Regions from separate parts of the Homo sapiens genome. Here region 2 is linked to region 1. Evidence: fine-mapped expression QTL. Tissue or cell type: whole blood. Region 1 holds a variant in brackets; the other region holds the start of a gene. All regions are shown on one strand. Distances are from middle to middle.

Region 1 (5,201 bases):
GTCCCGCCCCGCCCTCCATCCCCGCCCCTCACCGTCCGCGCCCAGCCCGCCGGCCCCGCCCTGCCCGCCGGCCCCGCCCTGCCCCACGGGCTTGAACCCCGCCCACCTCTTCGTCCCTCCCCACCAAGCCCCGCCTCTCCCCGTCCCGCCGGCTTCAATCCAGCTCTCTAACCCCGCCCGCCTCTGAGACCCCTCCCCTCCAGCCCCGCCTTTCCCCACCCTGCCGGCTTCAAACCCGCCCTCTAACCCCGCCCACCGCCGCAGCCCCTCCCAGATGGCCCCGCCCCTCCCCGCCCCGCCAGCTCCAACCCTGCTCACCCTGGCCAGCCCTGCACAGGGCCGAGTCCTGTACATCCAGGCCTGCGCGGTGCCTCTGCCTGGGGCTCGGCTCTCAAAGCTGCAAACGTGCAGACTTGACATCCTGAGTGGCGGCATTTTTGGAACACAGGCCATGCGATTTTACTTCTGGACGAATTAGGGAGCGCTCCCAGCCCGTGCAGGGGTTTTTCCCACTCAGGAGTAGGCACTCAGGGATGGGGCTTTCCAGAAACTCTTCCCGCCCCTCCACATACATGTTAACAATTCCATTTCGCATCTATCTATCCATCTAATACATTATAAAATCAAATTCAAAGTCAAAAACAGTATTTCCAGCCCTCCACCGCCCTGTCCCAACCAGGCTTGCAGCACTAAAACTCTTGACAGAAATTTTTGAGCTACCCCTGCTTTCCCTGGACACTACTACGGACGGCTCAGACCAGAACAGACATCTTGAGGGACTTGGGGACGTGTCCACGATGCTGGGGGATTGGACAGTTTCAGGTAGGCTACCCTGGCTTTCCCAAAGTCAAGGTCATGACCTAGATTTCCAAGCAAACGTGCACGGCCTTCTGTGCTGAAATTGTCCGCTGTCTCTCTCAGAAGAGGGAAGGGAGGCATTCTGTAGTACTGCCAAATAGAAGACCGGTGAAGTTCAGCCTCTCTTATTTGCTACTGCATTCTGTACAGAGCAGTCCTGTCCTTTGCTTTGCTGAGATGATCTTGTTCAAATGTGCTGCTAGGCCACCGGAAGTCTCCGCAGTGGTTTTGCAAAGATAATCATCAGAACCCGCTCAGTGAGGAAAATGAGACTTTAAAGAGCCACCTGAATTTTTTGGTGTGGGTCCTTTTTTTGCAGAAGATACTAGGAGCATTTTATGGCTTTTTTCCCCAAGGGAGACTATGTTTTTAAAACGCAATGAGCTAGAAGTATCAAAAGATGAAAACTGCAGAGCGATTTCAAAGCCCGTCAGCTGTTTGGCATTGAGACAACTAAAATTCTGTAAGAAGGGCAAATGGGGTCAAAACACAAAAGGAAATACAATATTGCCTTTAACAACGGCAACTATTTCTGAGGCAAAATGTCACATGTCACCTCTGTGAAACTTTAGGATAGAAGCAAATACAGATGAGTGAGGTTCCTGCAGCTCATCTCTGTGAACATGGATTGTTGGAGAACCCGCAGCCCGCTCGGGTAACCAACAGGAAACTGGCCAGGAGCAAGCCTATCAATCAAATCATCCACTCTAACCTGCCAGAAGGGTTCTCTAAAAGAGTTTTTAAAACTTAAGGCAAAGGAAACTCAGCAGTCATATATTTATCTGAATTTTCAAGAAGTTTTGACTAAGAACTGCTCTAAAAAAGAATAAGAAAACAAATAATCCTGGAAAAATAAAATGAGGGCATCAAAAACCAGTGAAACACTAGAAAACAATGACAAACAGGGAACATCTGTTCCCCAGAATGGAAACAAGTTGGTACAGTACTGGATTGAAGTACATCGGTACAGTACTGGATTGAAGTATTATATAATACAAATGTTTTACAGCATTAATCTTTGGAAGGAAGGAAAAGTTTACAGATGACCCTGGGGCTTCCTAAATCCTACTGTCCCGTATAGAAACACTATGTTTCTAAATATTTTTACTTATTTCCCTGGCTTAATTTCAGAATTTGGAGAATTGGAACCAAGTGGCAACTTCCAGCATCTTAGATCTAAAGTTTATTTGGTGGATGGGAGCACTGTGAAATGGCTGCCAGT[G/A]TATTATTTTTTCAAGTTTCAGTTATTTATTAATCAGTGTAATCTCCAATAGATTACATCAACATGATTTCATTCATTTAGAGGAGAACTATTTCCTGGTGAAGTGGAAAATTGTGCGGACGGATTCTGGAAGACCTTCAGTCTAAAGCAGCTTTATAGTGAAACATTTCATTTAGAAATCTGGACCTTCTTTCTTCAGTTTGCTGTGATCCACATTAATTGAGTAGAACTTGAATTGATCATCGGGACCCAGTTTGTTCCAGGGATCTGGGTGATTCTTTCAGTCCCAACTAACATCTGGATTGAAAAATGCCAGACGCAAGAGATACAGTCCTGCTCCAGTACCTCTAGCTCCAATAAATACTAAGAGGGAGATCAAGTTTGGATGCTTCTTGGCCTGACCGATGATCTGGTGGAGCGTGTCTGCGGCAGAGGCCTCCAATTGGAAAGGAGAGAACCAGCCTAGCCACCAGGCCCTGGGCTAAGTAGTATCTTGCCAGTGTATTTTAAAAGGCCTTTGGGAATTTTCTATTCTGCCTGGCCCACTCCTACTACAGATGTAAGATTATAGTTGTACAATTGGTCTTGTTTCATTTAAATTGTTTTAACTTCTTTTTTAATTTTGGAAAAATACATACAACATAAAACGTACTATCCTAACCATTTTTTTTTTTTTGAGACGGAGCTTCACTCTTGTTGCCCAGGCTGGAGTGCAATGGCACAATCTCAGCTCACTGCAACCTCCGCCTCCTGGGTTCAAGCGATTCTCCTGTCTCAGCCCCCCAAGTAGCTGGGATTACAGGCGCCCGCCACCATGCTGGGCTAATTTTTGTATTTTTAGTAGAGACGGGGTTTTGCCATATTGGCCAGGCTGGTCTTAAACTCCTGACCTCAAGTGATTCGCCCGCCTCAGCCTCCCAAAGTGCTGGGATTACAGGCGTGAGCCACTGCGCCCGGCCTGGAGTGCTTTATTATGCAGTAATAACTAACCAACTTACAGAAAAACAAAGACCAAAAGAAATCCTTAGGCCGGGCGCGGTGGCTCACGCCTGTAATCCCAGCACTTTGGGAGGCCGAGGCGGGCGCATAAGGAGGTCAGGAGATTGAGACCATCCTGGCTAACACGGTGAAACCCTGTCTCTACTAAAAACACAAAAAATTAGCCGGGTGTGGTGGCGGGTGCCTGTAGTCCCAGCTACTCAGGAGGCTGAGGCAGAATGGCGTGAACTCAGGAGGTGGAGCTTGCAGTGAGCCGAGATGGCGCCACTGCACCCCAGCCTGGGTGACAGAGCAAGACTCTGTCTCAAAAAAAAAAAAAAAAAAGAAAAAAAGAAAAAAAATCTTAAAGACACTCCTTTTTTTACTATCACGATCACTATCTGTATATCTGGGTATGTCTGAAAAAGACTTATGCCAAACCATTAGTTTGCACTTTCCATTCTGGGTTCACAAAAGCAAAGCCCATTACTTTTGCAATACACTAGCTATTCTTGCTAGCTGGTTTGCTTTAGAGTCTGGCTGGATTTTATTTTATTTTTTAAGTGACTCCGTTTCTTTTTAATTTTTGAGGAACCCGGTAACTACCCTGCACCATTTGCAACTGTGCGTTGGAGAAGCTTTTCTCGTGGTCACTGTGAGGGTAATTTGCACCTCCTATTGCTTGGTATTCTGCTAAAAGGTTTTCATACTTGTTCAAACCAGCAGGTTGGTGCCACAGTGAGTATTGCAGATCAGCTGCATTTCAGAACTTCACAGTTGGTGAGTCTGTGTCTTGTCCCTGTAGGACAAGTTGGGGCTTGCGGGTGATGCCAAGGAAAATTCTAGAGGAAGCCGAACAATGCCACAGCAGATGGAAGTATGTGTTCATTTAGGAGGTGGAAGGTGCCTCCATTCTATAAATAGGGTCACCTTGAAACTGCACTGCTTGCCAAACTCCTTAAATGTGTTCAGGTTTTCCCCACGAGTATATCACTGGATAGTTTATTGCCAAACTTCATTAGTTATTTTATTGATAAGGATGATATATTACAGAAGTACACTGTCTCATCAGACATTTTTACTCGAAGTAGAAATACTAAAGGAGGCAAAAGGATCTGTTCTAGCCTGTCCACAATTAGAGCTTCTGGCCCTTTCAGGAAGAAAGGATGGAGGAGAAAGTAACTGATGAAGAAAGTGAGGGCAGTAGGTAAAGAAGAGGAAAGAGATAGAGGAAAATCAGGAAAGGGAGGAGGAAACAAAGAAGGGGAAGAGGTGAGCGCCAGCTGTATACACACCAAGGGCTGCAGCAGCCTCCAGATGCCATGTCTCCCTGCATCCAGGCTCCATCACTCTTTTCAATAGCGCTGCTTGGAAAATTCTTCCATAGCAATCGGAGCATGTTCATCCCCTGACTTAGAAACAATGTGGCTCCCAGTTGCCTTCTGCATCAAGTCAAATCCCCCTAGGTTGGTGTTCAAGTCCCTTCCACACCATAGCCTCACTGTACCTCTGGTCTTAGCTCTGACCTGAGCCTCTCCAGGCCCTCCATATGCCCCGGGCTCCCTTCCTCGTCTCTGGAGGCACCAGGCCCTTGAATGCCCTTTCCTTACTACCTGCCATCACCAAGGACACAGCTCCCATGTTGCCTCCCCTGCCGAGGGTTTATATGTTTGCCATCATCCCAGCACTAGCCCAGCAGCTCCTGAAGAATCATACGTCATGTGCTTCTCTCTGTATCTCCATCACCCAAACAGTGCCTGTAACAAAGAGGACACTTCATAAGAGCTATAGAACGAATGAATGAATCTATGACACCCCTTTTTTCCCTGTTTGCCAGCCCAATATCTTTCTAAAGCTGTTTTTAAATTTAATTTTATTTTTATTATTTGAGATGGGGTCTCACTCTGTTACCCAGGCTGGAGTGCAGTGGCGCGATCTCAGCTCACTGCAATCTCTGGTCCCAGGTTCAAGCAGTTCTCCCACCTTACCCTCCTGAGTATGTGGGACTACAGGCATGTGCCACCACACCTGGCTAATTTTTGTATTTTTTGGTAGAGACAGGGTTTTACCATGTTGACCAGGCTGGTCTCAAACTCCTGACCTCAAGTGATCTGCCTGCCTCGGCCTCCCAAAGTGCTGGGAT
Region 2 (5,127 bases), 200 kb after region 1:
AAAATTCCCAGAAAATAGATTCGATACTATAAATGCTCCAGAGCAACTGAGAGGAAACACTTAATAAAAATAGTCATAGTCTAGAGCTAGTTCAAATTCATGATAAACAAAGCCAACCCTTACCGTGACAACTGACTGTGGCATTGGAAATCACTTTGCCAATTCGAAGCAGCTACGGGAAGAGAGTCTGAAGCCAAGCCTCCAATTTTATCTTGAATATATAAAAAGCAAAGTAATGCCAAGAAATTCTGCAGATGCTAGTTTCATCAGATGACATAAAGACTCATTTAATCAAAAAGGTGTCATTTAGTTCTAGCAATCTAGTTGGACTACTACAGTATATGATTTCCGTCTGTTTGAGGTCTCTAAGCAGTTTTACCAAAGTAATTGCCAAATCCTGTTGGTGCATAATATGTATGTGCAATGCTTGTTCAAAGAATGATTCAAACAACAGATTCTACATAAAAGCAAGATTCTTACAAATTAGCTTTTGGGGAAGGTAAACATTGAACTTTTCTTCTTAAAATGCAAGCCAATGATGATCACTAAAGGTTGCGTTATGGTGTAGGTATTAGCTATGGTTGATGCTTACCTACTCAGCACCATCTGAGCACCAACTGTATGCATAACAACCTACAACCCACTGTGGGAAATGCAAAGTGAAATCAGATGCAGCATTTGTCTTCATCGTGTACATGATCCAGGAAAGCAGAGAACACATGAATTTTAAAACTACGTCATACTACAGCAAGTGAACATTAAGATGCTTTGAAGAACTCAGTGAGTTGGGACTGACCTTCTAATGTCAAAGGAGAAATTGTCCATTCCCTTAAAAATGCTGCTAGCTCAAAATCCAAATGCCAGGTAGTGAGACCTGATTTCTGAAAGAGTTCCTGGGCTCAAGGCTTTAAAAAGCCATCCTTACAGTAGATAACAACAAAGGAAGTAATCCAAGGGGTAAACTATGCCAAGATACTTGATCTCCCACTCCAACCATACCCTAAACTAAGCCACTGCTAGCCATGGCAGAAACCTCTTCTCATGTTGACCATTTCCCTCCCATTTCGCATAATATTCCATTCCTGAGAGGCGGATTTTTAGCAGCAAGAGCTGGGTAAAACGTGGTCTTAGACCTAAACCTGTTATATATATATTGAATATATATATATATATATATTGAAGACATGCCTTCCTTTCTCTAATTCAGAAGTGCATGAATTTAATATTTCCATATATTGGTATTTCAAGTGCAAAAGGAAAAATTCAACTTGCTCTTTAAAATTAACGGCCTCGCTGAAGTGCAAATATCATTCTCTAAAATAGCTGATTCAAAAAAGCAGTAGGGTATTAATAAAAGAAGCTGCAATGCAACACTGATGATCTAATGTCCTAAACATTCGTTTCCTACACGAAGAGACATATAGGTCTTTTTGTATTTTGTAGCTGTCCGCTCTTCCATGATATGCATTACTAAAATTATACACAATTCATAACGGTCATATTCTACCATGGCCATAGAAGCAGCAATGCATTTAAGATATACCAGGAAATGATACTGCAAGTGCCAGAATATGAAAACCTTCAACTCAACATGTAGGCAACAAACTCAACCCAACAGAGTGTTGGCAGAGCCTTTCCTCCCCGTAGCAACATCGTGGTGGAAGCCCGGGCGTCTCTGCTCCCAGGCACCCTGAGCATGTTAGCCGAGGAAAGGGGGTTCCAGCAAGGAGACCCTCGGATGCAGCACTCCTCGTTTCTTTGGCCTGCAGGGCCAACTTTGCAGGACACACACCCTTCTGAGGGGACAGGCCTCGGGCTCGGAATCCCGGGGTTCTGCAGGGCTGCAGGGAGCTCCCTCGCAGAGACCTGAGCCCCCGGCAAGAGTCCAGGCAGCGGTGCCCTGGGTGAATGCAGAGGCTCATCTGCGGGCCTCAGTGGCCCTTTTGAAAACGCCAGCAACAGAGGAGTCCTCGACGCTGTCCCCACAAAAATGTGCCAAGCAAGCCTCAGGGTGGGTGTGGGGGACTCCCCTCAAAAAACGCTGATTTTAAAAACAAAAGACAGGCTCGTGGCCATTCTCAGAGGCGACCACGTTACTCCCAGGGCTGGAAAGCAGATTTGTGGAGGCCAAAGACGAGACAAAAGGCACGAGCTGGCGACAAACTGATCTGGAAAGGATTTTTCTTTTTTTTTTTTTTTTTTTTGGTGAGCGATGAGGGCCTCCCAGTTCAATTCTTTCTTCCCTTACAGAGAAGACTCATGGGCCGCTGAGCAAATCCCTTATGGTCTGGAAGAGACGTCAGATAGGCAGGGGGAGAGAACCCCCCAAACTTTCCCAAACTGCGGCAGGCTAGTGGCTAGTGGCGGCAGCGGACCTCGGGGCCCCGGGACACAGGGGGCACCCCGGGGCGTCAGCCACCCCCTCCCGCCACAACAAAAGGCCCCAGCGCAGCCCAGGAGCTGGGACTTCCCAGACCCGAGCCCGGCGTGGGGAGCCGGGAGCGCGATCGGGCGGCGCGCCCTGGGCGGCCCCTCTGTCCGCGGCGACATGGGAGACAGAGCCGCGTGTCCGAGGCGCGGCATAAAGGGGACCCCCGGGCGCATCCAGACGAGCCCCCGCCGCAGCGGCGACAGCAGCTGGAGCTGCCCGCGCCCCCGCCCGACCCAGCCCCCGATCCCCGGCCCCCGAAGCCTCCGCCCGGGTCACCCCGCGTCGCCGGCCCGCGCCGCCCCCTCGGGAGCGCGTTGCGGGTGCTGCAGGCCCGGAGGCTCCCGATGCGGCTCGGGCTGCGTCGCCACCACGCGGCCCGGGACCCTCCCGCCGCCGCCGCCGCCGCCGCCGCCTCCGCGCCAGGCCCGGCGCGACACAAAGCCCCCGGCCCCGCCGCCGCCCACTGACCTTGGGCTCCGGCGCCGGGCTCCCGCAGCGTCTTGGTCACCGCCTTCCAGACGTGGCAGCCCAGCAGGCACAGCAGCAGCGTCGCGGACCTGCTCATCTCCGCCGCGGGGCCGGCGGCGGCTCGGGCTCGCCGAGAGCGGGCCGGGCGGCGGCGCGTCACGGGCGGCCGGGCGCCGCGCCCCCCTCCATGTCGCTGGCTCCGCGCGCCGGGCCCGCCGCCCGATTGGCCCGGCCCCGCCGCCCCGGCCGCTCCCTCCCGCGCCCCGCGCCGGGTTTCCCCGAAGAGCCGCGGCGGCGGCGGCGGCGGCGGCTGCTGCTGCTCCGCCAGCTCCTTAACCCCTTCCTGCCTCGCCCGCCGCCGCCGCCGCTGCCCGCGCCCAGGCCCCGGGCCCGTGGTGCCACCTGGCGGCTGCGGCGCCGAGGGCGCCCCCGCCCGGCGCCGCTGCGTCGCGCCCCCAGCCCGACCCCCGGCGACACTGCCCCGGCGCGCCCCATCCCCGCAGCCCCGCAGAAGAGCCAGACCTGCCTTTCAGGGCGGAGCCCTTTTCATCACACCAGGTCACCCAAGGGGCCGCAGGAGACATTGTATCTGGGTGTGACCCCCCCACCAGGTGCCATCCTAATGTAGTTGTGTCCCCCAACGTAGATTTCACACCCAGTGTTAAAGATCCGCAAAAACACTCCCCAAGCCAGTATAGACTGCAGTAGGCCTGCAGTACCTACGTGTTGGCGGGTGGACAGCTTCAGGAGGAATGGTACTTGGATGGTTCTAGGGGTTAGGGTGGGGAGGAAATCCACATCTTTTGAGGCCCTAGGTGCTTTAAAACTTTCTGTCCTATTAAAGAAAAAAGACTATTCCATGACACGTGTGAAAGCACAGCAAAGAAGACCCTCTTTGGAACCATCGCAATAGGTATAAGCCCTACCATGGGATTCTGCAGTCGGGGAGAAAGGTTGGGTTCAACTCTGAATACAGCAGGAACAAGTGGGGATTTATAACCGAGGACCAGGGTGGGATGCAGGGAATGAAAAATTATAAGAGGAAACATCAGGGGGAAGGGGGATTCTTGAAAGTCAGACATCCCCTGGCAGGGCTGGGCAGGACAGGGCGGATGGGGAAGCTGATCAGATATCCAGGGTGGAGGGTTCTTGGTAAACTGACTTAGCAGGGTTCTTCCTGAAAGCAGATTTTACAAGGAAGGGCACAACTGAGCCTAGAAGAAGGTTCCGGAGCCTGACTGTAGTTCGGTCAAGCAGAGACTCTTTGTCCATCTTCACAATACATGATCTAAGAGGTAGTTAGCATTATCCCCCCCATTCACAGATGAGAAAAGAGGCTAAAGAGGGTTAAGGAATTTGTCCAAAAGTGCATACCTGGTCAGTGGCAGAGCCAAAATTCTAATAAAACAGTCAGTCTGACCCCAAAATTGAAACTCTTCACAAAAACCTCCAGACTTGGCTGGGTGTGATGGTTCATGCCTATAATCCCAACACTTTGGGAGGCTGAGGTAGGTGGATGGCCTGAGTTCAGGAGTTAAGAGACCAGCTGGGCCAACATGGTGAAACCCTGTCTCTACCAAAAATACAAAAAAATTAACCAGGCATAGTGGCCCATGCCTGTGGTCCCAACTACTCAGGAGGCTGAGGTGGGAGGATCGCTTGAACCTGGGAGTGGGGAGGTTGCAGTGAGCCAAGATCGTGCCACTGCACTCCAGCCTGGATGACAGACTGAGACCCCGTCTCAAAAAAAAAAAAAAAAAAAAATCAAAAAATAAAACCACCAAAAAAACCACACACAAAACAAAACCAAACCTCTAGACTTTCCTTGAGCCTAGGGACCCCCTCCATTCCAACCTCAACTTTTCTTTCTCTCAACCCACTCCTGTCGGTATGCCTTCCACACAACCTTCACCTCCACTTGTCCCTCTCCACCTTCTCTTCCAACTAGCACTGCGGTGACCTTCCGACTTCCACTGGGGACCTAGGAAAATCCACTCCAGACCCATCATCCACCCCACACTGCTTCCAGAACACCAGGCCAGAAGGAGGGTTATTACTGTAATTTCATTAATTGAGCATTTAGACATGGCAGGCACCGTACCAAAAAAAGAATGAAGGATGGCACTTGCCCAGTTGGCTTATAAAAGACAAATGACTGTGAGACATGAGAAAAACTAGGACGTACAGAAGCCCATATGGGTTTTATAGTCACCCTTAGGACCAATGCT

The links. PIP is the estimated chance that this variant, and not a neighbour inherited with it, causes the effect.
Region 2: FAM171A1 starts here. The variant in region 1 is fine-mapped to the expression of FAM171A1 in whole blood (TOPMed, PIP above 0.99).

The regions. Positions count from the first base shown.
Region 1 is chr10:15,168,781-15,173,981 of GRCh38, forward strand. It overlaps LOC105376434 (a long non-coding RNA gene), which reads right to left. Exons shown (of 4, transcript XR_930699.2): 4 at 4,064-4,815. It also overlaps the pseudogene LOC124902566. Among named protein-coding and RNA genes, the nearest start is that of NMT2, 2.7 kb to the left of the region's middle. RefSeq lists a silencer at 1-112. The variant G/A (reference allele first, on the strand shown) is at 2,081.
Region 2 is chr10:15,368,057-15,373,183 of GRCh38, forward strand. It overlaps FAM171A1 (family with sequence similarity 171 member A1), which reads right to left and starts at 3,233. Exons shown (of 8, transcript NM_001010924.2): 1 at 2,900-3,233. The coding sequence starts at 2,996. RefSeq lists silencers at 2,990-3,219, 3,230-3,279.